4 linked regions of the Homo sapiens genome follow. The protein of the gene in region 1 interacts with the protein of each later gene in a biochemical or structural test. Each region holds a gene or a part of one and is shown in the gene's direction. Other genes may lie near its edges.

The links.
Region 2: the proteins of PRKCD (region 1) and TOP2A form a complex in vitro, tested with the Homo sapiens proteins (one study listed by IntAct).
Region 3: of the proteins of PRKCD (region 1) and PTOV1, one has a biochemical effect on the other in vitro, tested with the Homo sapiens proteins (one study listed by BioGRID).
Region 4: the proteins of PRKCD (region 1) and MUC1 form a complex in vitro, tested with the Homo sapiens proteins (one study listed by BioGRID).

The regions. Positions count from the first base shown.
Region 1 is NC_000003.12:53,156,696-53,164,739, forward strand, and holds the start of PRKCD (protein kinase C delta type), read left to right. Parts: upstream 1-4,513; 5' UTR 4,514-4,733; intron 4,734-4,811; exon of another isoform or gene 4,812-4,880; intron 4,881-5,786; exon of another isoform or gene 5,787-8,044.
Region 2 is NC_000017.11:40,407,316-40,415,262, reverse strand, and holds part of TOP2A (DNA topoisomerase 2-alpha), read left to right. Parts: intron 1-1,637; coding exon 1,638-1,783; intron 1,784-1,970; coding exon 1,971-2,068; intron 2,069-2,291; coding exon 2,292-2,504; intron 2,505-3,444; coding exon 3,445-3,618; intron 3,619-3,807; coding exon 3,808-3,909; intron 3,910-4,016; coding exon 4,017-4,154; intron 4,155-6,632; coding exon 6,633-6,771; intron 6,772-7,138; coding exon 7,139-7,296; intron 7,297-7,588; coding exon 7,589-7,714; intron 7,715-7,947. UniProt on the Homo sapiens protein: Key decatenating enzyme that alters DNA topology by binding to two double-stranded DNA molecules, generating a double-stranded break in one of the strands, passing the intact strand through the broken strand, and religating the broken strand.
Region 3 is NC_000019.10:49,853,231-49,861,177, forward strand, and holds the end of PTOV1 (prostate tumor-overexpressed gene 1 protein), read left to right. Parts: intron 1-1,175; coding exon 1,176-1,313; intron 1,314-1,360; exon of another isoform or gene 1,361-1,421; coding exon 1,422-1,504; intron 1,505-1,600; coding exon 1,601-1,658; intron 1,659-1,739; coding exon 1,740-1,847; intron 1,848-3,234; exon of another isoform or gene 3,235-3,744; coding exon 3,745-3,900; intron 3,901-4,462; coding exon 4,463-4,552; intron 4,553-4,673; coding exon 4,674-4,747; intron 4,748-4,826; coding exon 4,827-4,884; intron 4,885-5,116; exon of another isoform or gene 5,117-5,197; intron 5,198-5,318; coding exon 5,319-5,423; intron 5,424-5,612; exon of another isoform or gene 5,613-5,858; coding exon of another isoform or gene 5,859-5,873; exon of another isoform or gene 5,874-5,946; intron 5,947-5,975; exon of another isoform or gene 5,976-6,059; intron 6,060-6,755; coding exon 6,756-6,953; intron 6,954-7,037; coding exon 7,038-7,049; coding exon of another isoform or gene 7,050-7,089; 3' UTR 7,090-7,512; downstream 7,513-7,947. UniProt on the Homo sapiens protein: May activate transcription. Required for nuclear translocation of FLOT1. Promotes cell proliferation.
Region 4 is NC_000001.11:155,185,259-155,190,402, reverse strand, and holds the end of MUC1 (mucin-1 isoform 10 precursor), read left to right. Parts: coding exon of another isoform or gene 1-23; intron 24-200; coding exon of another isoform or gene 201-1,163; intron 1,164-1,468; coding exon of another isoform or gene 1,469-1,786; coding exon 1,787-2,240; intron 2,241-2,339; coding exon 2,340-2,395; intron 2,396-2,544; coding exon 2,545-2,681; intron 2,682-2,826; coding exon 2,827-2,948; intron 2,949-3,028; coding exon 3,029-3,178; intron 3,179-4,193; coding exon 4,194-4,268; 3' UTR 4,269-4,579; downstream 4,580-5,144. UniProt on the Homo sapiens protein: The alpha subunit has cell adhesive properties. Can act both as an adhesion and an anti-adhesion protein. May provide a protective layer on epithelial cells against bacterial and enzyme attack.

The DNA.
Region 1 (8,044 bases):
CGACTGGCGTGTACGTGGTTGTGCGGTGGGTATGGAGGTGTGTGCACGGCGCGGGGGACCCTGCTGTGCCTGCAGTCAGTCCTTCCCAGCCTGCCAACCTCGAGCAGCCGCCTTTCAGCTCAGGGCCACCCCCTACACTGTTTCCCATGGGCCAAGCTGGGTTTGGTGAGCTGTCCTCTGAGGATGTGGGGGATGAGGGGCTGAGAGGTGGGAGCGGGGAGCTGAGGCACCCTCAGGCCAGGGAGCGAAAGGAAAGGCAGGTGAGGCTTATAGCCCTCCCTGCCCTGCTAAGCCCCATGAGCCTCCCAGTAGGGACCCCGTAGATTAGAGCTAAATGGGTGCCGGGGATGGGGGCGGTGGAGGAGAGCTGGGAGGTCCCCTGGACTCCGTGCGAGGGGATAGCTCTTGCTGATGACTGTCCCAACACCAGTGCCCCTTCTCCCCACCTACACACATGTTTGGGGGCAGGGGCAGAGGAGCCAGGGAAGGGGACTCAGGCTGGCAGGGGCTGTGCCATGGTCAGTGCAGAGAAGGGACAGTCCAGGGTACACACCCCTGGGAGAGCCACAGGAAAGCCCTGTGTTCTGCACTCCCAGGACACACCTTCCCCTTGTCTACCCCCAAGTATGTCTCAGGTTTCACCCAAACACAAATGTGTTGAGGAAGGAACATGGAGGCAATTAGCCCAGCCTCACCAACTCTCTGCCTGGCAGGTAACACCAACATGGGATGAACTTGAACTCTTCCATCCTCTCAGCCTCAGGAGGTCGATCTTAACCAAACACCACTCCACAGATGAGGAAGCTGAGGCACATTTAAGTTGCAGTGCAGGGCAGAGCCAGGATGCGAACCAGCCCCTGGGCTGGCACTTCCCTGCTGTGCAGCACTACCCACAAGGCCACTGTCCCCCTCAGCCTGTCCTTGCTTGTCCTTAACCTAGTACCTGAGGCTGACACTCCTGTCGATGACAGTCTTGGTGGCCTGAGGCATGGGCATGTCCCAAGTGTCCTTCCTACTACACTGTCCCCAGTGGGAACCTCCCAGGCTCTGCTGCCCCCAGCAATTGCCCAGGTGCACTGTCGCTGTTGACTGTGTCTCCTGCTCCAGAAACACAAGCCCACTCTCTCTTGGCCAGGCCAGTGCTCTGGGTGTGATGGGGATTGCCGTGGCAACCAAAGCTTCAGGGACAAGGATGGTGACACAGAGAGACAGAAACAGAGAGAAGGTGCAAAAAGCAGAAATGCCAGGACAAGGACCAACTCTTGGCAGGGATCAAGTGAGGGACCCCATTTGCCTTCAGCTGTGTGGGCCTCAGGGACAGAGGGAGGCCTTTTCCAGGTTGCTTGGCCGAGTCTTGGACTTCAGGAGTGGAGGAGTCTGGAGGCCTCCCAGGGTTGATGGCCTTTGGAGGAGGCAGAGGTGGCAGGGGTCAAGTTGCTTCTCCTCTGGATAAATCCTCCAGGAGGCCCACAGAAGGAACAGCCCTGGGTGGATGCTGTGGGTGGGAGTCTGGAAGCTGCCTGGCACCACCCTAGCCCATCTCCTTGGCTGCAAACCTGGAGGAGGAGGAAAGTATCACCTCTAGGCAGCTGCTATGAGTCTAGCCCTGCTCAGGGATTTACGCCCCATGTCAGGAGAGGCCATTGAAGCCTCTTTCAAGGCTGACAGCCTGTGACTTGGCACATGACCAGGCTGTAACCCTGGGCAATGTGTCTAGCCTGGCCGAGGCTCTGTATATATCATCTCATTTAACTCTTACCACCTCATTCAACTCCTGACATGAGTCTGTCATCAGCCCTTTTCATAGGTGAGAACTCTGAAGCTGGGAGAGGCATGGTCACCTACTCAGGGTCATACAGTTGGCATGTGACACAGCCAAGGTTTGCTCTCAGGCTTCAGCAGGCCCTTCTTGTTGATGCAAGGCAGATTATGGGGACACAGATACCAGCTCATCTGGACCCTGCCCTGGCCCACCAGTGTGGCACCCAGAAGCAGCTCCAAGATGCAGGGTGGTTCTAGTCAAGCTTGGCCTGGATTCTCTGGACCTCATGCAAACCTATTCTCCCTGGAACCCTTGGACCTAAGGCCTGGAGGGAAGCCCACCTTCATCCCTTCTCTGCCCTCGCCACAGCATAGCTAGCACAGCCTTAGCCCCTCTGACCCTCTCTGAGTACATCGCACTTCCCCTTTCTCTAGAGGAGAAAGATTGGCTGAAGCCAGTGTATGCTTGCAGCCCCTGAGCTCACAAGTCTGCATATCCTGAGGATCAGGAAAGTGCTTCCTGTTGTCTAATGTAAATCTTGTTCCTGTAACACCAGTATATGTCAAAGCAGTGATTCTCAACAAGGGGTAATTTTGCCCTGCAGCAGACATTTGGCAATGTTTGGAGACATTTTTGTCTGTCACAAGTTAAAGCAGGGAGGTACTATTGGCATCCACTAGGCAGAGGCCAGGGATGCTGCTCAACATCCTTACAGTGCACAGGGCAGCCCCCACAGCAAAGAATCATCTGTCCCAAAGGTCAGTGGTGCTGAAATTGAGATCCCTGATGTAAACTATGGGCTTTGGAGCCAGACAGACCTCGGTCTGAATCTGCGTCTGCCACTGACTAGCTGTGTACTCTGGGGCAAGTCGCTTCTCCTTTCTCTGAGCCTCAGTTTGCTCATCACCAAAACTGGCACTAACAGCAGCCCTCACCTCTTGAGAACTGTTCAGACTGCCCACATCCAGCACCCAGCACACAGCCTGGTGCTGGGTAGCCCCTATCAGCGATAGCCATGATTATTCATTTCCTTCTTCCATGGTGAACCACACGGAGTGGGAACAAAGGTCTGGTGGCTGGACCTGGAGCTCCTCAAGGGTCAGTCCTCCCTCTGGCTGCAGTCCCTGGCACAGGGTGGGCCTATTGTTTATGTTGAGGGAGAGACTGGGTTGGCTTACTGTGGACCTGAAGGAGGAGCCAGAAGGAAACCCGATCCCAAGTGGGCAAAGGTCACTTGAGGCTCACCTTGTTTACCCTTTCCTCCAGTCCAACCCCAGGGAAGCCATGGGGCATGATGGGTGGGGTGGGATGGGATCAGGACACAGAACATGCTAATGAATATGGTCCTTCACTCAGGGAAGTGCCGTGCATTACAACTGGGCATCAGGGAGGAGGGACATTTGAATGGACACAACCAGGGCAGGTAGAGGTTTGGGGGTGGGGTGGGAAATGGCATTCAGGCCCAGAGAACAGCATGCTCAAGGCCTGGGTGTGAAGAGAAAGTCTTTCCCAAAGGATAGTCCTTGAACCCACCTGGTCTGGCCTTTTCTCCCCATCCATCTTCCGCAATCTCAACCAGGGTCCTCCCACCTGAACAACGTGGCAGCCCTTCTGTCCCCCATCCAGCCTCTCCTCTGCCCTGCTGTCCCTCTGCCCCATCTATCCCGCAGGAGCCCCCTTGAGCCTGTCATCCTGCCTGGTTGTAATAGCTTTCACCACCTTCTCATTGCTCTGTGAGAAGACCAAAGTCCAATGGCCTGTCTCTGTCACAAGCCCCTTTCTCAGCTCAGGCCACCTCAGGGATTGTCCCCCACTTCCATCCCTTGTGTCTCAGCTGGGAAGAGCTGTCTAGACTTTCTCTATCCCTTCTAGGTGGTTCCCCAGGACCTGGAACCCTCTTTTTTGTCTCCTGGGAAGTGACATTTCTTTGGATGAGTATAAGGCTAATGTCTTGGCTTTCTGAGCTCTGGGGACAGGGGAATGGACTCCCTAGAACCCCAACTGGTCCCTAGACTTTGAGCCTAGGGGACACTCGGTGAATAGATGAATGAGTGAATGAATGAATGAAGGAGTTATGGCTGACAACCAAGTTCCATGTCTGGAAAGGAGGCTCAGGCGCCTGCCAGGAGCAATAGAGAGGTCTCAAAGGTGGGGGCAGGAAAGCAGAAGACTGCCAATCGGGGTAGGGGCAACTGCCAGTCCGAGTAGGGGCAGTTCCCAGAACCGCCTGAGGAGCAGTGCAGCGCCCGACCAGCGAGAACCTCCGACCCTGGAGTCTAACCAGCTCAGTCTTTGGGGCAGAGCCGGGACAGCGGGCTTGGCGGCGGGCACCGCGCCCGGCCGCGTCCGAGCTCCAGCCAACAGGAAGAGCAGGAGTGGGGCCAGGAGAGGCGGGCCAGCTGGCCAGTGGGGAGTCCCGGGCGTGGGTGTGGGGAGCGGGGGAACCCCCGCCGGCCCCTCCCAGGCCCCAGCGGGCGGAGGGAGCCTCCCCACCGGGCCTCAGCGTCCTCCTCTGTAAAATGGGCCCCTTCTGAGGGCTGGCTGCGCGCTAATGGCGGGAGGATGCGAAGAGGGCCAGGCAGGGCAGAGGGACCGGGAGACTCGGTGTCCCGCGCAGGCAGAGGCGGAGGGACGCTGTCCCCGATTGCAGCTGGCGGGGCGAGGCCTGGCAGGGCGAGGCCTGGCGGGGGCGGGGCCTGGCGGGGGCGGGGCCGGCGGCACCTGGGTGAGGTCGCTCGGCCCCGCCCCCTCGCACTTCCGTGTGCCGCGGCGCCGGAGCCCGAGGCGGCTGTAGCCCACATCTCCCGAGCGACCCCCGGCGCCCGCCCGCCGCGCGGAGGCCCGGGCCACACCTCACTGGCCGCTTGGCCCATCCCAGTCAGCGCCGCGCCGAACCCCGTCCGCGCGCGCCGGGGAGCGGCGCCCCCGCCGCTGCCGCCGCGACCCTTGGCGCCTGCCCCTGCAACGGGAGGTAAGTGAGGGCCGGGTCCGGGCGCGGGATCGGGGCTACCCCGAGGGCGCGGCGCCCTTCCTTCCCCCTTCCCGCCCCAGTTCCCGTTTCCGAAACTGAGAAACTGAGCCGCGGTCAGCGAAAGTCCCGCCGCGCCGAGACCTGCCGGTGACTCCGTCCCCCTGTCCGTCTGTGTGTCCCTCCGCTAGACAGTGGGGGCTGAGGTCCTTCTGTCTGCCCGCTCCCGGCCCCTCCACCCGCCCGTGTGTCTCCCGCTCCTCCGAGGGGCCCGTCCGTCCCTCCCGACTCTCTCCCGGGCCCTGTGTCCGTCCGTCTGTCGCCACCCACTCTGTGTTCTCCCCCTGCGCGCCTCTCCGAGACCCGATCCTTCTGTCCCTCGCCACCCGATCCGTCCGTCCCTTGCCCTCCGCGTGCTCCATCGCCCCACCCCCACCCACACCCCTACCCCCGCCCGCCGCCCCCTCGATCCCGTCCTCCCGGAGCCGCGCCCCCGGCCCACGCTCGCCGCCCCCTGCCAGTCCAGCCGCCTCTCCGCTCTACCGCGGGGCCCAGGCCAGGCCGCCCGCCGGGCCTCGCCTCCCGCCCCTGGGTCCCTGGAGGCCCGACCCGCGCGGCGCCTCCTCCTCGCTGTCTCTTCTTTCGGTCTCAAGAGTCTTTCTCGGTCCCTTCATCCGTCTCTGGGCTGGGCGTGGCTCCAGTCTCCACCATCCCCCTTCCCACCCCACCCCTCCGCCCCTCTGAGACCCCTCCCAGGGTGGCCCCTGCCCGATACGGTCTGTACTCGCCCCCAACCCAGATGCCACTCCCGTTGTGGGGGCTCCACCAGATGAGGGGAGGAGGTCGGGGGGGGGGGTCCTCCTGGCTGGTGGTGGAGCGGCAGAAGGAGAGCACCATCGGAACTGCTCCCACTTCCCCAGTTCCCTCTCTCTTGGGGCAGGGGAGAGCCCCACCGAGCCCCGCCTTAAACCTGGTCAGAAGGATCTGCTGTGAGTGGGCGGGGGGTCCCCTTCTCTGACGCCTACCCTGTATGCGTGGAAGCTGTCTCCTTGTGCTAAGTCACTGGTATCTGGGTGTGTGGGTATGTTGTGTGTCTGTGTCAGCTTCTGTGCTGTCTGTCACTGTGGGACTTGCCTGTGCATGTGTGTCCTTTTTCGCATGTGTGACTTGCTTGTGTGTATGTGTGTATGTCTGTTTGTGTCCTGAGGCTCTGTGTGTGTCTTTTGCAACTGTGTGTACCATTCTTGGTGTGTTTGTTGTCACCAGACTCGTGTGTGTGTGTGTGTGTGTGTGTGTCCTTGCCTGCTAGTGTGTGTGTCCCTGTGTGTCTGGAGGTTTCGGTGTTGCACACTGGGTATATCATGGTGACCAACTGGCCATGAGTACGTTAGATCTGTTAATTGTGGAAGCCCCTGGTGTTGGGTGCCTACCCACCAGTCTCATGTGTGAGTGTATCTGTATAAGTGTGTGTATGTGTGTGTACTCACGTGTGGCTCTCCCTCTGCCACTGAGTTTCTGTGACCAGGCCCACCTGGTCACTAAGGGAGGGGACTGATCCCTGGGGTTTCCTCGTTCCTGCTGTGGAGTGAGCTGGGGCTTGGTGAGCAGGCCAGCAGAGGGAGGCTGTATGGTGCATGTGTGATATGTGTGGTTGTGTGTGTGCGTGTGTGTGTGACAGAGAGGTGTGGTGGTGTCTGGGCAGCTGTACCTGGCTGATGGGTGGTGTGAGGGCTATGCGATGGGACAGTGCTGGGGTAAGCCTGGGAGTGTGTGGCCACGGTAGGAGTGTGTGACTGGTGGGACACAGTCTATGAAACTGCCGGTGTATGCTTGGGGAGTGACTGTGATTGTGGGGAACCGAGAGTGCCTGGGCGTGGGTGTTAGCGGCAGGAGGGGGTGTGACAAGGTGTGTGGTGACAGTGCTGGGAGGGAAGGTGAGAGCCCAGTGTGGGGGTGTGTGTGTGAGTGTGTGGGAGACCATGAGGATGTGGGTGTGCACATGGAGAGGGCTAGAGGGCAAGTCTTGGGGTTTGTAGTGTTGTGACCAAGACCTCGGGCTCTGTACCCAAGAATTATTTGGGCTCCAATACTTGCTTGTGCCTGTTAAGAGCAAGAGACCCAAGCTAGGCCTCTCAAGGCTGAGTGTCCTTATCTGCAGAATGGAGAGAGTGAGGACAAAAGTTCCTGTGTTAAAGGTCCTTTAACACAATCTTGGCCCATAGTGAGAACACAGCACATGTGAAGTCTTTTGTTGTCACCACCCCCAGCTATACGGTTCCCATTCTCCTGGGAGCTGGGGCTAAAGAAAGCCCAGACAGTATCCAACCCAATTTCCTGCCTGTCTGTTGCCCCTTCCCATCTCCTTGACCAAGCAGCTTGAGGGAGGGGGGATGCCCAGACAGAGCCCCCAGTACCCAGCCCTGTTCAGCCTGCATGACAGCCCCTCCCTCACCAGACCTTAGTGTCAGTAGTAGCGATGGGGGAGACAGGGGTGGGGGATGATTCAGAGCTGTGACTGCAGGGCGCTGACACCATTTAGCTGGCACAGTTTAGATTAAAATTAGAAATAATTTAAAGTACAGACAAAAAGATAAAGCCAAGGATGCCTCTGCCCCCAGGGAATGGTGATGGGGGTCTCCAGCTGGGGGAGGGGTTCACATCTGGGGAGCAGAATCTTTCTTAGAGGCTTGAGCTGGCCTTCAGAGAAAATGCTTAGGCCTTTCAGCCAGGAGACACAGAGTACCTTGCTACCTTTGCCATTTCTTCCTCCCAGGATATCTCCAGGCCTCAGTTTTTTCAGCTGTGTAATGGGCACAATAGTAATGTGAGAATCACCTGAACTGTAAGGCACAAGAGATTAAAAAATGTCACTCTTCAGTCTGGGCACGGTGGCTCACACCTGTAATCCCAGCATTTTGGGAAGCCGAGGCAGGTGGATCACTTGGTCAGGAATTTGAGACCAGCCTGGCCAACATGGTGAAACCCTGTCTGTACCAAAACTACAAAAATTAGCTGGGTGTGGTGGCGCGCACCTGTAATCTCAGCTGCTCAGGAGGCTGAGGCACGAGAATCACTTGAGACCAGGAGGCAGAGGTTGCAGTGAGCCAAGATCGTGCCATTGCACTCCAGCCTGGGCGATAGAGTGAGACCCTGCCACATTAAAAAAAAAAAAAAGTCACTATTCATTTGGCATTCTCAACATGAGTCCAGCACAGGAGCTGGCACGCCACATCATTGGAACCTCAGAACCACCTGGGGAGAAGAGGCTAGTAGTTTCCCCATTAAAAAAACTGAGGCTCAGGGAAATTGCACCA
Region 2 (7,947 bases), on another chromosome or scaffold:
CTAACACGGTGAAACCCTGTCTCCACTAAAAATACAAAAAATTAGCCGGGTGTAGTGGTGGGCGCCTGTAGTCCCAGCTACTCGAGAGGCTGAGGCAGGAGAATGGCATGAACCCGGGAGGTGGAGCTTGCAGTGAGCCGAGATTGCACCACTGCACTCCAGCCTGGGTGACACAGCAAGACTCTGTCTCAAAAAAAAAAAAAAAGTTGAGCTAATTTTAATTAGTTTTTTTTATAGATAATAAGTACTATGTAGAACAAGAACCATAATGTATATCGAGTTATTAACTAAAATATAGTACCATCCAAGAATTAACTTAAAATAACTGAAATAAGTTTTCAGCATTTTATTTGAGAGCAAGGCAGTTTATGATTGATATTGGTTTTCCTTTTTTTTTTTTTTTTTTTTGATGGAGTTTTGCTCTTATTGCCCAGTCTGGAGTGCAGTGGCATGATCTCGGCTCACCGCAACATCCACCTCCTGGGTTCAAGCAATTCTCCTGCCTCAGCCTCCAGAGTAGCTGGGATTACAGGCGCACACCACCACACCTGGCTAATTTTGTATTTTTTTTAGTAGAGATGGGGTTTCTGCATGTTGGTCAGGCTGGTCTCGAACTCCTGACCTCAAGTGATCTGCCTGCCTTAGCCTCCCAAAGTGCTGGGATTGCTGGGATTACAGGCGTGAGCCACTGCGCCCAGCCTGTTTTTATGTACTTTGTTGAGTGGGAACGAGATGTATAGATGATCCTCTTGAAAGGGGTATAATAGGCATGATGACTCACTCCTGTAATCCCAGCACTTTGGGAGGCCAAGGTGGGAGGATCAGTTGAGCCCAGGAGTAGTTTGAGACCAGCCTGGGCCATATAGTGAGACCCTCATCTCTACAAAAAATTTAAAAATTAGCCAGGTGTGGTGATGGACACCTGTAGTCCCAGCTATTCAGGAGGCTGAAGTGGGAGGATTGCTTGAGCCCAGGAGGTCAAGACTGCAGTAAGCTGTGATCCTGCCATTACACTGCAGCCTGGGTGACAGAGCGAGATGCTGTCTCAAAAAAGGAGTGGGAGTGGTGTATAATAATGTTTCCAGATTGTCCTTTTCTTTCCATTGGGCATAAATCATTTCCCTCTGTTTATCCTAACATTTTAAAATTTTGTATTTTTTCAACATTATCAGTGTCTATTCAGGTGTTGGAAAAGGTTTTTTTTTCCTCTTGACTCCTATTTCAGGAATGTCAGGAACTAAGCATGGTGGGAAATGTTCCTGCTGAATTTCAGAAGGTATATATGAAAAGTGCCAAAAAAATTGAGGGCTGGGTATGGTGGCTCACATCTATAACCCCAACACTTTGAGCAGTTCTCCTGCTTCAGCCTCCCAAGTAGCTGGAATCACAGGCATGCGCTACCATGCCTGGCTAATTTTTTTTATTTTTAGTAGAGACGGTTTCAACATGTTGGCCAGAACTCCTGGCCTCAAGTGATCTGCCCTCCTCAGCCTCCCAAAGTGCTGGGATTACAGGCACAGGCCACCGCGCCCAGCCTGAATATACATATTTTAGAAATAATAGTATTTAAATATTTTTAAATGTTAAGCATTCGTTTAATGTGTTGTAAAATACAATTTTCAATCTTTTTTTCTTAGGGAAAACAATTTAATTAGTATATGGAATAATGGAAAAGGTATTCCTGTTGTTGAACACAAAGTTGAAAAGATGTATGTCCCAGCTCTCATATTTGGACAGCTCCTAACTTCTAGTAACTATGATGATGATGAAAAGAAAGTGACAGGTAGAGTATTGAGGGGAAATAACATATTTGTTGCTAAAAATATATATATTTAAATGACTGTCTGTGGCATGAGGGTTAAAGATATGGAAATAAATCTCTATAATTGAATAGCTCTGCCAGTGATTAAGAAATAAAGCTGTCAATGAGATAGTAACAATAAAATAGTGTTTCATATTTATTTGCCCAGGTGGTCGAAATGGCTATGGAGCCAAATTGTGTAACATATTCAGTACCAAATTTACTGTGGAAACAGCCAGTAGAGAATACAAGAAAATGTTCAAACAGGCAAGTAAATAAGTGTCTTGTACCTTAATGATAAATGGTAGTAGTATAGCCATTTATAATGGCATTAATGATTGGTTTAATTTAACATAATTTATAAGCTATTGAAGTATGGAAAATTATAAGCATATATATTAGGTTATTAGGACTCATAAATTTATGTTATTTACTTCCAGTTTGTGAGATGACTTGAATTTTTCATGTTTCCTATTCTTTACTTCCATAGACATGGATGGATAATATGGGAAGAGCTGGTGAGATGGAACTCAAGCCCTTCAATGGAGAAGATTATACATGTATCACCTTTCAGCCTGATTTGTCTAAGTTTAAAATGCAAAGCCTGGACAAAGATATTGTTGCACTAATGGTCAGAAGAGCATATGATATTGCTGGATCCACCAAAGATGTCAAAGTCTTTCTTAATGGAAATAAACTGCCAGTGAGTATTTTCCTGGATGTTAAGGATAATAAGGGATTTTGTAATCATTGTCAAGTGCAAAATTGAATTTTTTCCCCTCCCATATGTTTTTGTTTGTTTGTTTGTTTGTTTGTTTGAGACAGAGTCTCACACTGTTGCCCGGGCTGGAGTGCAGTGGCACGATCTCGGCTCACCGCAACCTCCACCTCCCAGGTTCACGCAATTCTCCTGCCTCAGCCTCCCAAGTAGCTGGGATTACAGGTGCCTGCCACCACACCTGGCTAATTTTTTGTATTTTTAGTAGAGACAGGTTTCACTATGTTGGCCAGGCTGGTCTCGAACACCAGACCTCATGATCCACCCGTCTTGGCCTCCCAAAGTGCTGGGATTACAGGCATGAGCCACTGCACCTGGCCCAACCATATGTATTTTCTTACCACTTCTCACATATGTTCTTGAAAAGAGAATGGTATGCCACATTTTTTAATCAGCTCATTTTAAACTTACCGAAGGAATTTCTTTCTCAAAGAAACACCTAAAATAAATATTTCATGTCCTTTTTTTATTTTCCTTTTTCTTTCTTTTCTTGATAACCTCGCTGTGTCACCCAGGCTGGAGTACAGTGATGCAATCACGGCTCACTACAGCCTGGACCTCCCAGGCTCAAGCGATCATCCCACCTCAGCTTCTGGAGTAGCTGGAAATGCAGGCAGCACCACCATGCCCAGCTAATTTTTTTTTTTCTTTTTAATAGAGGTGGGGATCTCACTATGTTGCCCAGGGTGGTCTTGAACTCCTGGGCTCAAGTGATCCACCCACCTCGGCCTGTGTCCTTTAATGACCATTCCCTTATGCCTATCAGTGAACATCATTGCATTGGTTTTGGAAAGTCCTCATAGTCTATCATTGAACCTATTTTTTAATAACTTTCTTAATACTGTTACCTTTAATTCCTGTACAGGTAAAAGGATTTCGTAGTTATGTGGACATGTATTTGAAGGACAAGTTGGATGAAACTGGTAACTCCTTGAAAGTAATACATGAACAAGTAAACCACAGGTGGGAAGTGTGTTTAACTATGAGTGAAAAAGGCTTTCAGCAAATTAGCTTTGTCAACAGCATTGCTACATCCAAGGTAATTTTATTCTTAAATTATTAATCATGATTTATCTTTACATATATGTGTTCTTATTGTTTTTAATATATAAAGTGGACTTGAATATTGGGCTAGCTTAGTATAAAGGAGGTTAAATTAGTTTTTAATGTTTGATTATTATAATTTTGAGGATACTGAGTTTTACAGTTTGGTATTTTTCCTTATTAGGGTGGCAGACATGTTGATTATGTAGCTGATCAGATTGTGACTAAACTTGTTGATGTTGTGAAGAAGAAGAACAAGGGTGGTGTTGCAGTAAAAGCACATCAGGTATGTGCTTTTGGCAGTTTTCTTTTTCTAAAGTCAAGGAAGAAGAGAAAGGCTATAAATAAAGCATGAGTACATTTTTAGTGGCTTAATATCAACTTCTATTGCAGGTGAAAAATCACATGTGGATTTTTGTAAATGCCTTAATTGAAAACCCAACCTTTGACTCTCAGACAAAAGAAAACATGACTTTACAACCCAAGAGCTTTGGATCAACATGCCAATTGAGTGAAAAATTTATCAAAGCTGTGAGTACTTAGAGGAAAATAAAAATAGAAACACCTGACTTTATTTTCCATTGCACTTCTTAGCTCTGCAGAAACAATGATTCTTCTCATAGTGAGCTTCTCCAAGTCTTCCCAATCTGAAAAGGAAGTAAAAAAGGGCTTTACTTTAACTGATTTACCAAAGACTTAATGACCGTCTATATTTCAGTATTTCCCAATTACATTTTACCATTAAGCTTAGATCACTTTTGAATTAATCTAGCTGTTTAACAAACACCCTCACTTAAATGCCTAAGACTTGCTTTCAGTCAACACATCCAAAATTGAATTTGTTACCTCCATACTCACTGATTTGCCCATACAAGCAGCCCCCCACTCTCCAACAAAAAAACAACTTCCTATCTTAGTAAAAAGCCCCAACCAACCTCTAGGTTGTATAAACAAGAAAGCTGGGAGCCTTCCTTTATTTCCCCTCCTCTCTAATCCGGTCAATAAGAATCATCTCTTGGATGCTGCAGTAGCTTCTCACCATTATCTCTTTTTTGGTTTACTACAATAGGTTCTTAACCTTCATACTGGTTAAGTCCTTTCCTTGGAATGCTTTTGAGTGACTTTTGTGTTAAAACACCCATTTTTATCTTCACTCTCATTTGAAATCTTTCAATGACTTCCACTCAGGGAAAGTCCAAATTCCATAATTTGGCCAACAAGAAAGATCTGCTGTAATCTAATTACACCTACTTCTCCAACTCATCTCAGTGCCAGTTTTTCGTATATTGTCCTGTTGCTTTTAAATTACTGAAAAGCACAGTGCTCTTCCCCTCCTCAGAGTTTATTCACATGCTAATCCCTCTGCATGAAATACATCCTTTTCACCTGGCTACTTTAGGTCTTGTCCTTTCCTCAGGAAAGCCTTTACTTTCTACCCTTCCCCCCACCTAAGTTGGTTCCAATATAATATTGAACATACCTTATTAGCAAACTTTTTGCTTATCCATAACACTTATAACACTGTAACTTATTTTATTTCTGTCTTTTTTTTTAGGCAGAGTCTCGCTCTGTCGCCCAGGCTGGAATGCAGTGGCACGATCTCGGCTCACTGCAACCTCCGCCTCCTAGGTTTCAGTGATTCTCTTGCCTCAGCCTCCCGAGTAGCTGAGATTACAGGCATGCATCACCATGCCTGGCTAATTTTTTTGTTGTTGTATTTTCAGTAGAGACAGGGTTTCACCATGTTGGTCAGGCTGGTCTCAAACTCCTGACCTCAAATGATCCACCCATCTCGGCCTTCCAAAGTGTTGGGATTACAGCCATGAGCCACTGTGCCCAGTCTTTTTTTTTTTTTTTTTTGAGACAGAGTCTTGCTGTGTTGCCCAGGCTACAGTGCAGTGACGTAATCCTGGCTCATTGCAATCTCTGCCTCCCAGGTTCAAGCGATTCTCCTTGCCTCCTGAGTAGCTGGGATTCTCCAGCCTCCTGAGTAGCGGGGATTACAGACATGCACCATCACATCCAGCTAATTTTTGTATTTTTAATAGAGATGGGGTTTTACCATGTTGGCCAGGCTGGTCTTGAACTCCTGGCCTCACTTGATCCACCATCCTCGGCCTCCTAAAGTGCTGTGATTACAGGCGTAAGCCACTGCACCCAGCTATGTCTGTCTTCTATGTTGTGTCTTAAACTTGATGAGGACAAGTGTCTCAATTTGTTTTATTTGTGTCTAATTTTATTTATTTATTTTTAATTTTTTTTTTTGGAGACAGCTTCTCACTGTTTCCCAGGCTGGAGTGCCGTGGCTTGATCTCAGTTCACTGCAACCCGCGCCTCCCAGGTTAAAGCAATTCTCCTGCCTCAGCCTCCCAAGCAGCTAGGATTACAGCCATTTCACCACCACCATGCCTGGCTACCCTTTTTTTTTTTTTTTTTTTTTTTTTTGAGACGGAGTTTCACTTTTGTCACCCAGGCTGGAGTGCAATGGTGCGATCTTGGCTCGCTGCAACCTCTACCTCCTGGGTTCAAGCGATTCTCCTGCCTCAGCCTCCCGAGTAGCTGGAATTACAGGTGCCCACCACCACGCCAGCTAATTTTTGTATTTTTAGTAGAGCCGGGGTTTCGCCATGTTGGCCAGGCCGGTCTCAAACTCCTGACCTCAGGTGTTCTGCCCACCTTGGCCTCCTAAAGTGCTGGGATTATAGGCGTGAGCCACCGTGCCTGGTCTAATTTGTTTTAACCACTATATCTCCAACAAGTAGCTCAGTGCTAGCACAATATAATTATATAGTAAATATTTATTGAACGAATGAACCAAAAGGAGCAGCTCCCTCAGTGGTGATAACCTGACATGGGAAGATGTGCCACCCTCTATCCAGAAATTATTGTTCTACATCTTTTTAATTTTTGAATCATTTTTATTTGTATTAAGGCTCATTTGTATTCTAGATTTCTGATAGATCCCTTCTTCCCTAATATGATCCCTAATATGAATCTTCTCGTTTTCAGGCCATTGGCTGTGGTATTGTAGAAAGCATACTAAACTGGGTGAAGTTTAAGGCCCAAGTCCAGTTAAACAAGAAGTGTTCAGCTGTAAAACATAATAGAATCAAGGGAATTCCCAAACTCGATGATGCCAATGATGCAGGTATATATTTAATAATGTTTCCAAACTTTTAAGTCTTATAGTTGTTATTTTATTCATTAATGGCATACCACGGATATTTATTTTTCCCTTGACAGAATAACTATATTCAACAGAATAACTTGTTAAAAATCGGCCCGTTTCCTATTATGGAAGATTTAGGTCATTTCCATGTTATAAATAATATTGAGGTGATTATTTTGGAGTATAAAACAAGAATGTTTATATTATGATCTATTACCTAACAAATAATTTTGCTCATTATATAGTAAATTGTGTTTTATCACAAGGCTATAAACAGCATGTTCAAGTTAGTATATTTGAGGTTGAACTAAATGTGCTAATATTAATATGTATATTTTTATTTTAGGGGGCCGAAACTCCACTGAGTGTACGCTTATCCTGACTGAGGGAGATTCAGCCAAAACTTTGGCTGTTTCAGGCCTTGGTGTGGTTGGGAGAGACAAATATGGGGTTTTCCCTCTTAGAGGAAAAATACTCAATGTTCGAGAAGCTTCTCATAAGCAGGTAGAATATAAGACGATCTTCAGAATCTAAATCTAATTTATAATACAAGACTTTATGCTTATATTTAATTCCCTCATTAGGCATTTTAAAATATATTTTAGACAATTTGTGCTTATTTTGAGAAATTAGGTACATTGTAGCCTATTTTAACAGACCTTTCTGATGTAGTAAATTATAAGCTAATAGCTCAAAATACTGGAGCTCAAGAAAATCCAAGCAACATATACTGTTAAATTTCTTTGTTCTTTTCAAATTTATAAACGATGCTTTTTTTGGTATATGTCCATTTCAGATCATGGAAAATGCTGAGATTAACAATATCATCAAGATTGTGGGTCTTCAGTACAAGAAAAACTATGAAGATGAAGATTCATTGAAGACGCTTCGTTATGGGAAGATAATGATTATGACAGATCAGGTCAGATTTGTTATTAAATTTTTAGATTGTTCAACTAAATTAAGCATGTCTTAATTTAATTTCATTGTTTTTTGCCATGAAAATAAATTAGTTAAATAGGAGCTTTATTCATCATCTCTAATCAACATCTAATCAGATATGCTTATATCATATGTATGTTGCAAATACAGGTTAAGTGAGTCTGGATTTGAACAGACCTTTTTTGATTCCCATAGAAAATTTGACAAATTGCC
Region 3 (7,947 bases), on another chromosome or scaffold:
TAAATCACCCTTATAATTTGTTTTCCCCCGCCTGGAGGCGCCTATTACGGGGAAACTCTCGTGGGTTTCCTGCTGCCAGGCTGTTTGCGGAGCTTTCCCTTGTTTGCTTTGAGATGTTTTTGGTTTTAAAAAACAATAAGTGAGGTCAGGCTTGGTGGCCCTCGTCTGTAATCCCAGCACTTTGGGAGGCCGAGGCGGGCGGATCACTTGAGGTCAGGAGTTCGAGACCAGTCTGGCCAACATGGTGAAACCCCATCTCTACTAAAAAAAAAAAAAAAAAAAAAATTAGCCGGGCATGATGGCGCGGCTTGCAGTGAGCGAGGTTGCAGTGAGCTGAGATCGCACCACTGCACTCCAGTCTGGGAAATGAGTGAAACTCTGTCTCAAAAAAAAAATAGTAATAAAAATAGTGGGGAGAGTGCCTGTGAGTAGCATTTGTGGCGTTGCTTGGCTTTATTGCTAGAACTTTCTCTTGGTGTTCTACATGTTTTGGTCTGTGAGACCCCTCTGGGGGTGGTGTCCCAGCTGTCTTCCAAATGTTTCCCCCTTTTCCTCGCTGTCTTTCTCCTGGATGGTTTAGTCCCCTCTGTGTTTCTTGTCATCTCCTTCCTGCCTCCCCCCGGGGTCAGACTTATAAGGCCAGAGAGGTGGGCACTGGCCTGAGCCAGAGGAAGGAATTGAACTTTGGGATGACAGGGAGCTTTAGGAGAGTTTCAGCCTGGGAAAGACAGGGCAAGCTGGTGTGTGGGACAGACACAGCGCAAGCCGGCTTGTGCCTGTGGAGGCTGCAAGGAAGCCCTGGGCCCAGCCTGGGGCACGGGGAAAGCCCCCTACAGCTGGCTTCTAACTTGGGTCTCAAGAATCGATCAGGCGCACAGCTGGGGCAAAGGCTGGAGGTGGGGCTGGCTGAAGGCTTCAGGACTCTGCTGGGCCAGTGTCAAGGTGACAGCAGGCTCTGGGAAGGAAGGGTCCTGAGGGTGGGCAGCGGGAAAGGACATGAGGACCAGCGTGTGGGGGTCCTGAGGGGTGAGCAGAGGGTTTGGACATGGCCCCGTGGGCTTCCAGCAGGGGATTTGGGGCTGAATATTGGGACGTCCCCTCTGGGGTGTGTGGGGACTGCCTGTCCTTGCAGGCCCCGGCCTCAGTTTTCCCACCTATCCCCCACTCCATTGCAGGAAGGTGCTCGGGTCTTCGGGGCACTGGGTCCCATCGGTCCCTCCTCACCTGGGCTCACCCTCGGGGGTCTGGCCGTGAGCGAGCACCGGCTCAGCAACAAGCTGCTGGCTTGGAGCGGCGTCCTCGAGTGGCAGGAGGTGAGTCTCTGTGGGGCTGCGGCTGGCCTCCAGGGTCTTGTCTTGTCCCTGCGGGGACAGGCCAGGGCATCTAGGCTGTGCACAGTGACGCCCCTCCTGCCCCCACAGAAGCGCAGACCCTACTCTGACTCCACTGCAAAGCTGAAGCGGACCCTGCCCTGCCAAGCCTACGTGAACCAAGGCGAGAACCTGTGAGTGCCGGGGCGTGGCAGCCAGGGCGGTGGCAGGGGCAGTGGCTGTGGCCGTGGGGATCAGGGCAGCCCTTTCTGACCAGCTCCTTCCCATAGGGAGACCGACCAGTGGCCGCAGAAGCTGATCATGCAGCTGATCCCTCAGCAGCTGCTGGTGAGACCCGCCCCTCCCACCCCATCCACTCTGAGCACCCCCATGCCTGGCTGACCCAGCTGTCTGTCCTGTCGCCCCCAGACCACCCTGGGCCCCCTGTTCCGGAACTCCCAGTTGGCACAGTTCCACTTCACCAACAGAGACTGCGACTCGCTCAAGGGGCTCTGCCGCATCATGGGCAACGGCTTCGTGAGTGGGGCGGGCTCCCTTGTAGCACTGTGGTGACAAGTACAGCTGGAGGCAGCGCTCTGCTCACACAGTCCAGGCGGGGGTCGGGGGGTCTCCCCTGGGGCCGAGGGTAGCCCTCGTGGCCTCTCGGACCCCATCTGGAAATGACTGACTCCAGGCACCCTCCGTAGAGCACAGGGTGAAGGAACTCAGCCTGAGAGGCCTCCAGTTTCTGCATCTGTGCCCAGCTTCGAGGTGGCCCTGGGGGCGTGAGTGCAGGGAGGGACTGGGGCCAGCCCTGTTGGGGCCCAGGAGCCTGTCGGGGACACATAGCGTATGGCAGGGACCTGGTAAATGGGTGTGCTAGGCACAAGAGCCAGCCAGGAGGGAGTGGCACGTTGGGGCTTGGTATTCTGGTCTGTAAAATGGGCTAACCTCCCCGAGTGGCCTGAGCTGGCCGTGAGGGAGCAGAGCTGAGGGTGCTGAAGCAGGCGCGGTGAGTAGGTCCTCAGGCCTGGCTCCAAGGGGACCCAGGTATCCAGCCAGTGGCTGTGCAGGGACTGAGTGGGGCAGGCGCGGCCATGACCTGGACCCGGGGGGCTGCCAAGGGATCTGAGAGCGGCTTCCGCAGCACTCCAGGGTTGGGCTGGTTGAGGGGTAGAGATGACATTTTCTGAGGTAGGGAGGACAGGGGAGCCGTGCTTCCTAGGGCCACCGGGAGGCTGGAGGGAGGGAATTTGTGTAAAGCGCTTGAGATGGTGACTTTAGTACCTAGTGAGTGCTGGGTGAACCCAGCTGGTGAGGCTGTTCAGGTGACTGAGATTCTGGCGCAGGGCAGGTCAGAAAGGGGGCTTGGGCTGTGAAAGATGGCAGGTGCTGGAGAGGAGGCAGGGGTGGGGTGGGAGCGAGTTGTCTGCCCAGAGGACCTGGCTCTGGGACATTCCCAGTCCCTGTTCCCTGTTGGGACAGTCTGCCTCTACCCGTCCCAGCTGCCGTTGAGCGCCCTGGGTTCCGCTAGGGCCTCCCTTCTCCCTCAGGAGACCAGGGGCAGACCAGGGCTTGTGCCTGGCATGAGGTCTCTTAAGTGACCCGTTCCCCCTTCACCCAGCACCGTTTGTTGAGGGCCTGCCATATCTGGGCCCCGAGTACCCAGTCTGTAGGGAAAGTGGACATCCATACTCACCCCCCAGGCATGGCCCTGGGAGGCTGACTGTGCATGGCTCCAGGGAGGCCAGGGACAGGGCCCTGAGCGGGTGATCCCTGGGCTGGACACCAAGGTTGAGAAGTTAGGCCGGCAGCGTGGAGGGGACAGCACTGTGGGGGTGGCCCGGTGTGGGGAGGGGACATGGGGTTTTGGGACGGTCACACCACTTCATCTAGACACCACAGCCAGGCACATCTGTCAGGCTTAGTTCTCCCATGCGCCATCCTCAAGAGGCACCAGCACTTTATCTGTTGAGCCTTTATGTGGCACCAACTGTGTGCACTATTACCCGGTTTTACAGATGATGGAGGCCCAGAAGCAGGAGGTGGCTGGTGTTAGGTCACACAGCTAGGAGGCAGCAGAACGGTGGGGCGCTGCCTGTGCTCTTAACCCCCAGGCCAAGTCACCCCATCAGGCAGTCAGGAGGGCTGGCGGCAGGGGGTGATGTGGGTGGGAGGTAGTGCCTTCTTGGCATTCTCACCGCAGCCTGGGTGCCGGGTGCCACTCTGACCTCAGCCATGGCAGGGTCGGGGGATGCCGATGGGCGCTGCACGGGCTCTCAGAGGCCCCTCACCTATGGCCATGGCCTTGACTGTGGGGGCCTCTGTCCACCGATGATCTCCCTTCATCCCCTACAGGTGGGGCGGTCCAGGGTGGTGGGGGCACAGTGGCCCCGGGCAGTGACCACAGGGTCCTGACCCGCGGCCCCCGCAGGCGGGCTGCATGCTGTTCCCCCACATCTCCCCCTGTGAGGTGCGCGTGCTCATGCTCCTGTACTCGTCCAAGAAGAAGATCTTCATGGGCCTCATCCCCTACGACCAGAGCGGCTTCGTCAGTGCCATCCGGCAGGTCATCACCACCCGCAAGCAGGTGTGCCAGCCAAGCACAGCCCCTCTGGGGACAGAGGGGGATTAGACCCCACTGCCCTGGTTGGGCAGCCAGACTTGGTGTGGGCGGAGTGTGATGCGATGGCTGGAGCAAGGAGCTGCAGGGGAGCCCGGAGGATGCCGGGCGGGTTCCCACCAGGGCTCCATGGAAAAGCGGCCACTGGGCGGCTCTGCAGGGCTGGAGGGTGGGTCTTGGCGCGGCGGCAGGGAAGCCAGCGGAGCGGGGAGCTGGGCAGGGGTTGGGATCGTCCTGCGGCTGGAAGGCCCTGCCTGGTAACCACGTGTCCTGGTCATGCCTTGCCAGTTGAGGCAGACTCTGCAGGTCCTGTGCACCAGGTGAGGGCCGGGACCTGTCTCAGGCCACTGGGGAGCCATGGGGGGCTGTGAGCAGATGAGGGGCAGGGCCTGTTCCCCTGGGACTAGAGAATGGACCCAGCTGGGGCTAACAGGCCAAGGCTCGGAGGGAGGGATGGCAGGCCCCAGGACAGACAGACAGGTTTCCCAGGAGCCTGGGCCCCTCTTCCCACCCCGTTCCCTTCCAACAGGCAGTGGGACCTGGTGGTGTCAACTCAGGCCCAGTCCAGATCGTCAACAACAAGTTTCTGGCATGGAGTGGTGTCATGGAGTGGCAGGAGGTGAGCACTCGGCAGCCCAGGGACTTGGGACCCCCAGATCCTCACGGACTGTGGCTGGGAGGGGACACTGGCATTGGGGGTCTCCAGCCCTGAGGGCTCCTCTTTGCCTCTCCCCCAAAAGCCCAGGCCTGAGCCCAACAGTCGGTCCAAGAGGTGGCTGCCATCCCACGTCTACGTGAACCAGGGGGAGATCCTGTGAGTGCTGGGCTGGGGGGTGGAGGCAGCATCCAGGGGAGCTGGGGCTTCCTGACCCTCGTCCCTTTGTGCCCCACAGGAGGACCGAGCAGTGGCCAAGGAAGCTGTACATGCAGCTCATCCCGCAGCAGCTGCTGGTGAGGGGCTGGGGCCGGGTGCTGGAGCCTGCACGCAGTAGCTCTTCCAGAGGGCGGGGCTGGGGGCAAGAGCGCCTCCCCAGGTGGCCTGAGCTGGCTGTGAGGGAGCGGAGCTGAGGGTGCTGAAGCAGGTGTGGTGGGTAGCTCCTCAGGCTTGGCTTCAAGGGGTCCCAGGCAGCCAGCTGGTGGCTGTGCAGGGACTGAGCGGGGCAGGGGCAGCCACGACCTGCACCTGGGGGGCTGCCAAGGGATCTGAGAGCGGCTTCCACAGCACTCCAGGGTTGGGCTGGTTGAGCGGTGGAGATGACGTTTCCTGAGGTAGGGAGGACAGGGGAGTCTCAGTTTGGTCCTGGGCCCGGGGGACTCAGCGGGCTGGGAGCCGGGAGGCCGTGGTGGGAGAAGCCAGAGCTGGGGGTCCCCTCGCTTCCCCGCAGACCACCCTAGTGCCGCTGTTCCGGAACTCGCGCCTGGTCCAGTTCCACTTCACCAAGGACCTGGAGACACTGAAGAGCCTGTGCCGGATCATGGACAATGGCTTCGTGAGTGGTGCCAGCAGACGCAGGGGAGGGGCCGGCCAGGGCAGAGCGAGCCCGGACCGCTCACGGGGGCGGACATGGGAGAGGAACAGAGCACCATGTCCCAGACCAGCTGGGGAGAGAGGGTGGCTAGTGTGGGCGTGACTTCTGGGGGCTCTGTGCTGTCCCCACGGCACTGGATGGGGCACTGACCCTGGTTCTGCGGGGGCCTGCTCCTCCTCTGCCACATCAGGGCTGACTCAGCACCAACTCCGCGCTCTCCACTCCTCAGGGACAGGCGCCCTTGTCACTCCTGGTTTCCCGGGAGCTTGTGCCACATCCCAAAGGCCCATTGCTGGGCAGGGAGGGCTGTCTGCCCCCAGCAAGGTCCCAGAATATTTGGCGATTGTCTTATCTGGGGGAGGCTCAGCTGACTCCTCTTCTCTCTCTCGGGCTCAGTTTCTCCATCTGTGAGGTGGAGAAGGTTGGACTTTGGTGTTTCTGAGCCCTCCCCCCGATGTCCACCTTCCAGCTGGGCCATACTTGGGTAATATCCCGAAACTACCTTAAAATTACCTTCGACTCAGTCTGAGTAAACTGTCCACGAAGCTGTTCGTGGGTGGGGGGGGCCTGGGTGTAGGTGCTTTTACATGAAAGCAATTTCAAGCATTCCCTCAGGGGCCGGGTGCGGTGGCTCACGCCTGCAATCCCAGCACTTTGGGAGGCCGAGGCGGGTGGATCACCTGAGGTCAGGAGTTTGAGACCAGCCTGGCCAACATGGTGAAACCCCGTCTCTACTAAAAATACAAAAATTAGCCAGGCATGATGGCCACTCAGGAGGCTGAGTCACAAGAATGGCTTGAACCCGGGAGGCAGAGGTTGCAGTGAGCTGAGATCATGCCATTGTACTCCAGCCTGGGCGACAAGAGCGAAACTCAGTCTCAAAAAAAAAAAAAAAGTTTCCTCAAGGAAACCCAGAAAGGCTCCATGTACCTCAGCCCTTGCTTGTGCTGGGCCGGCCGCTGCAGATCCCTCGGGCTCCTGAGTTGAAGCCATGGCCGGTTGGCTCAGGTGGCTGTGGTGAGGTGGCCCCAGACACAGCCTGGCCTGCCCAGGAGCTCTGAAATGCAGGTTCTTGGGCCCTTCCCGACAGAGCCTGTTGGCCTTTGGCCCACCCATTGCTCTTGGCCACCGTGTCATCCCAATAAGGGGGCCCACCTCCAGGGTGGGTGGGGGGTGTGAGGACAGAGCAGTTAGGCTGTGCCTGGCTCATGGAGCCCACGGCATGATGCCGTGGTTGGAGGGATGCTGGTCCCTGTGGTGCTGTCTGGTGACACCACGCCCTGTGCCTGCCAGGCCGGCTGCGTGCACTTTTCCTACAAAGCATCGTGTGAGATCCGCGTGCTTATGCTCCTGTACTCTTCAGAGAAGAAAATCTTCATTGGCCTCATCCCCCATGACCAGGGCAACTTTGTCAACGGCATCCGGCGTGTCATTGCCAACCAGCAGCAGGTCCTGCAGCGGAACCTGGAGCAGGAGCAACAGCAACGAGGGGTGAGGTGGCCGGCCTCCAGGGCTGCTCAGTCTCCCTCCACCCCCGCTGCCTGCTCACCACTGGCCTCTGATTTCTCGCCGTAGATGGGGGGGTAGTGGTTACCCCGGGCTGGGCCCCTCCAGGAGTCACAGATGAGGCCCCCGCAGAGACTGGTGAGTGGTGACCCTGTCATGTACAGGAGGGACCCTGGGGCATGTGGGGGGGGTGGGGTTGGGAAAGAAGCAGGGCGACCTTGGCCTTGGGGAGAGCAGAGCAGAGGGAGAGGCAGCAGTCCCAGCGGTCCTAGGCTGTCGGGAAACTGCAGCCCAGCCTCAGGGCCATGGGAGGTGGTATCCAGGCCTGGGTGGGGCCAGGCCTCTGCTCACAGGGATGTGGGGTCAGTGCTTGGGAGCCTGTGGCCAGCAGCCCCCACTGCACCCCTGCCCCCAGGTGACACGCTTCTGAGCAGGGGCCCCTGGGGACTTCAACTGCCCAGCAACATGGAGGATGGTGTCCTGAGGCCTCCAAGGACGGTCCCCACCCCTCTACGTTTCCCCAATAAAGCCTTTTAAAAACCTGCCTGCCTTCTCTGCTCACTGCCCGATGCCTTGCAGCCCCCTAGCTCTAAGGTGGCCCAGCAGGCTGGACAGCCCGGGAACTCACTGGGTCTGGCTCTCGGCTGTCCACACCCTCTTCCCCCCCGAATCTCCAGACCCGCAGGCCTTGGGTTCAAGTTCAGTGTCACAGAACCTGAGCTGGATTTTGTCCTCAGGGGTCACACCTGGCCTTGAGCCAGCCCCTCGGTTGAGGCTCGTGGGCTCACCAGCTGGCTCTCGGGGGGCCACACAGCGCCCTCCCTGTGTGTTCCCCGGCTAATGTCTAAAGTGCTCATGCCAGGTCCCAGCTGGACTCCCCTCGGTAGGGCCCCACCTTTTGTTACCTGAAAATGTCCTTAAAGCCTCCTCCATGTAAGAAACTGGCAGGCCTGGAGCCCCTCCCCCGTGGGGACCACCC
Region 4 (5,144 bases), on another chromosome or scaffold:
GGTGTCACCTCGGCCCCGGAGAGTTCCGCCCCGGGCTCCACCGCGCCCGCAGCCCACGGTGTCACCTCGGCCCCAGAGAGCAGGCCGGCCCCGGGCTCCACCGCGCCCGCAGCCCACGGAGTCACCACGGCCCCGGAAAGCAGTTCTGGCCCGGGCTCCACCGCGCCCCCAGCCCACGGTGTCACCTCGGCCCCGGACACCAGGCCGGCCCCGGGCTCCACCGCGCCCGCAGCCCACGGTGTCACCTCGGCCCCGGAGAGCAGGCCGGCCCCGGGCTCCACCGCGCCCGCAGCCCACGGTGTCACCTCGGCCCCGGAGAGCAGGCCGGCCCCGGGCTCCACCGCCCCCCCAGCCCACGGTGTCACCTCGGCCCCGGACACCAGGCCGGCCCCGGGCTCCACCGCCCCCCCAACCCACGGTGTCACCTCGGCCCCGGACACCAGTCCCGCCCCGGGCTCCACCGCCCCCCCAGCCCACGGTGTCACCTCGGCCCCGGACACAAGGCCCGCCCCGGGCTACACCGCGCCCGCAGCCCACGGTGTCACCTCGGCCCCGGACACCAGGCCGGCCCCGGGCTCCACCGCCCCCCAAGCCCACGGTGTCACCTCGGCCCCGGACACCAGGCCGGCCCCGGGCTCCACCGCCCCCCCAGCCCACGGTGTCACCTCGGCCCCGGACACCAGGCCGGCCCCGGGCTCCACCGCCCCCCCAGCCCACGGTGTCACCTCGGCCCCGGACACCAGGCCGGCCCCGGGCTCCACCGCCCCCCCAGCCCACGGTGTCACCTCGGCCCCGGAGAGCAGGCCGGCCCCGGGCTCCACCGCGAGAGCAGCCCACGGTGTCACCTCGGCCCCGGAGAGCAGGCCGGCCCCGGGCTCCACCGCCCCCCCAGCCCACGGTGTCACCTCGGCCCCGGACACCAGGCCGGCCCCGGGCTCCACCGCCCCCCCAGCCCACGGTGTCACCTCGGCCCCGGACACCAGGCCGGCCCCGGGCTCCACCGCCCCCCCAGCCCACGGTGTCACCTCGGCCCCGGACACCAGGCCGGCCCCGGGCTCCACCGCCCCCCCAGCCCACGGTGTCACCTCGGCCCCGGACACCAGGCCGGCCCCGGGCTCCACCGCCCCCCCAGCCCACGGTGTCACCTCGGCCCCGGACACCAGGCCGTCCCCGGGCTCCACCGCGCCCGCAGCCCACGGTGTATATTTAAAACAGAGAGCAGGCCGGCCCCGGGCTCCACCGCGCCCGCAGCCCAGCTCACAGTGTCACCTCGGCCCCGGACACCAGGCCGGCCTCGGGCTCCACCGACACTCCAGCACACGGTGTCACCTCGGCCCCGGACAACAGACCGGCTCCGGGCTCCACCGCCCCCCCAGCCCACGGTGTCACCTCGGCACCGGACACCAGGCCGGCCCCCGGGCTCCACCGCCCCCCCAGCCCACGGTGTCACCTCGGCCCCGGACACCAGGCCGGCCCCGGGCTCCACCGCCCCCCCAGTCCACGGTGTCACCTCGGCCCCGGACACCAGGCCGGCACCGGGCTCCACCGCCCCCCCAGCCCACGGTGTCACCTCGGCCCCGGACACCAGGCCGGCCCCGGGCTCCACCGCCCCCCCAGCCCACGGTGTCACCTCGGCCCCGGACACCAGGCCGGCCCCGGGCTCCACCGCACCCCCAGCCCACGGTGTCACCTCGGCCCCGGACACCAGGCGGGCCCCGGGCTCCACCCCGGCCCCGGGCTCCACCGCCCCCCCAGCCCACGGTGTCACCTCGGCCCCGGACACCAGGCCGGCCCCGGGCTCCACCGCCCCCCCAGCCCATGGTGTCACCTCGGCCCCGGACAACAGGCCCGCCTTGGGCTCCACCGCCCCTCCAGTCCACAATGTCACCTCGGCCTCAGGCTCTGCATCAGGCTCAGCTTCTACTCTGGTGCACAACGGCACCTCTGCCAGGGCTACCACAACCCCAGCCAGCAAGAGCACTCCATTCTCAATTCCCAGCCACCACTCTGATACTCCTACCACCCTTGCCAGCCATAGCACCAAGACTGATGCCAGTAGCACTCACCATAGCACGGTACCTCCTCTCACCTCCTCCAATCACAGCACTTCTCCCCAGTTGTCTACTGGGGTCTCTTTCTTTTTCCTGTCTTTTCACATTTCAAACCTCCAGTTTAATTCCTCTCTGGAAGATCCCAGCACCGACTACTACCAAGAGCTGCAGAGAGACATTTCTGAAATGGTGAGTATCGGCCTTTCCTTCCCCATGCTCCCCTGAAGCAGCCATCAGAACTGTCCACACCCTTTGCATCAAGCCTGAGTCCTTTCCCTCTCACCCCAGTTTTTGCAGATTTATAAACAAGGGGGTTTTCTGGGCCTCTCCAATATTAAGTTCAGGTACAGTTCTGGGTGTGGACCCAGTGTGGTGGTTGGAGGGTGGGTGGTGGTCATGACCGTAGGGAGGGACTGGTGCACTTAAGGTTGGGGGAAGAGTGCTGAGCCAGAGCTGGGACCCGTGGCTGAAGTGCCCATTTCCCTGTGACCAGGCCAGGATCTGTGGTGGTACAATTGACTCTGGCCTTCCGAGAAGGTACCATCAATGTCCACGACGTGGAGACACAGTTCAATCAGTATAAAACGGAAGCAGCCTCTCGATATAACCTGACGATCTCAGACGTCAGCGGTGAGGCTACTTCCCTGGCTGCAGCCCAGCACCATGCCGGGGCCCCTCTCCTTCCAGTGTCTGGGTCCCCGCTCTTTCCTTAGTGCTGGCAGCGGGAGGGGCGCCTCCTCTGGGAGACTGCCCTGACCACTGCTTTTCCTTTTAGTGAGTGATGTGCCATTTCCTTTCTCTGCCCAGTCTGGGGCTGGGGTGCCAGGCTGGGGCATCGCGCTGCTGGTGCTGGTCTGTGTTCTGGTTGCGCTGGCCATTGTCTATCTCATTGCCTTGGTGAGTGCAGTCCCTGGCCCTGATCAGAGCCCCCCGGTAGAAGGCACTCCATGGCCTGCCATAACCTCCTATCTCCCCAGGCTGTCTGTCAGTGCCGCCGAAAGAACTACGGGCAGCTGGACATCTTTCCAGCCCGGGATACCTACCATCCTATGAGCGAGTACCCCACCTACCACACCCATGGGCGCTATGTGCCCCCTAGCAGTACCGATCGTAGCCCCTATGAGAAGGTGAGATTGGGCCCCACAGGCCAGGGGAAGCAGAGGGTTTGGCTGGGCAAGGATTCTGAAGGGGGTACTTGGAAAACCCAAAGAGCTTGGAAGAGGTGAGAAGTGGCGTGAAGTGAGCAGGGGAGGGCCTGGCAAGGATGAGGGGCAGAGGTCAGAGGAGTTTTGGGGGACAGGCCTGGGAGGAGACTATGGAAGAAAGGGGCCCTCAAGAGGGAGTGGCCCCACTGCCAGAATTCCTAAAAGATCATTGGCCGTCCACATTCATGCTGGCTGGCGCTGGCTGAACTGGTGCCACCGTGGCAGTTTTGTTTTGTTTTGCTTTTTTGCACCCAGAGGCAAAATGGGTGGAGCACTATGCCCAGGGGAGCCCTTCCCGAGGAGTCCCAGGGGTGAGCCTCTGTGCCCCTAATCATCTCCTAGGAATGGAGGGTAGACCGAGAAAGGCTGGCATAGGGGGAGGTTTCCCAGGTAGAAGAAGAAGTGTCAGCAGACCAGGTGAGCGTGGGTGCCAGTGGGGTTCTTGGGAGCTTCAAGGAAGCAAGGAACGCTCCCTCCTTCCTCTCCTGGTCTTTCTCTATGGGACCTAGTAAATAATTACTGCAGCCACCTGAGGCTGGAAAACCACTCCAGGTGGGGGAGGAGAGAGTTTAGTTTTCTTGCTCCTATTTTCCTCCTCCTGGAGACCTCCCTCTCTCGGCTTTACAAAGACACAGATACACCCCGCCCCCCAAAACACACACACACACACACACACACCTCCTTAGGCTGGAACAGCAGAGAATGGAGGGACAAGGGGGCTGATTAGAGCCAAGAAGAGGGAGTGAAGGAGAGCAGAGGGAGGAGGGCAGCCCTGTTTACAGTCACCTGGCTGGTGGGGTGGCAGGTGCTCTCTCTGAATTAACCCTTTGAGAGCTGGCCAGGACTCTGGACTGATTACCCCAGCCTGGGGTGGCATCCAGGGGCTCTAGGAGGTACCTTTTGCTCCTCACCCTGGATCTCTTTTCCTTCCACCCAGGTTTCTGCAGGTAATGGTGGCAGCAGCCTCTCTTACACAAACCCAGCAGTGGCAGCCACTTCTGCCAACTTGTAGGGGCACGTCGCCCGCTGAGCTGAGTGGCCAGCCAGTGCCATTCCACTCCACTCAGGTTCTTCAGGGCCAGAGCCCCTGCACCCTGTTTGGGCTGGTGAGCTGGGAGTTCAGGTGGGCTGCTCACAGCCTCCTTCAGAGGCCCCACCAATTTCTCGGACACTTCTCAGTGTGTGGAAGCTCATGTGGGCCCCTGAGGGCTCATGCCTGGGAAGTGTTGTGGTGGGGGCTCCCAGGAGGACTGGCCCAGAGAGCCCTGAGATAGCGGGGATCCTGAACTGGACTGAATAAAACGTGGTCTCCCACTGCGCCAACTTCTGATCTTTCATCTGTGACCCGTGGGCAGCAGGGCGGTCAGAATGTGTGTGAGGGGGCTGGGGGAGGAGACAGGGAGGCCAGGAGGCAGTAAGGAGCGAGTTTGTTTGAGAAGCAGGAGATGTGAGGAGGAGGTGACATTGGGGAGTAGGGGTGGCCTGAGGAGCCACCTCTGGCTAACCCTGGCAGCACAAGAGGAAGGAGGAAACGAAACCCAGGCGGGCTTTGGAGGGCTAGCGTGACTGGGCTCCGTGACTGAGCTCTGTGTGCCAGTGGCTCTCCCCTCTCCTCGCCTGGCCCACGCCCTCCTTGCCCCCTGGCATGGTGCCCCCCAGGTGGCTCTATTCTTAGCTGTCCGGGTGTGAAGTAAATCCTTGGGCAGTGATAACAGCCCAGAGTCAACAGGGTTGAGATAAGCAGAGGCTGGGTCAGATCCGGGCGCTGGCACCAGGCCCAGCCCCCTCCCTGACCCCGGCTGCCCCACCAGCCTGCTGCCCCTGGGGTGGGCTCCACAACACCCTGGGAATGGGGAAGTGGTTCTGGTTCCCTGACCCCTTTGGGCCC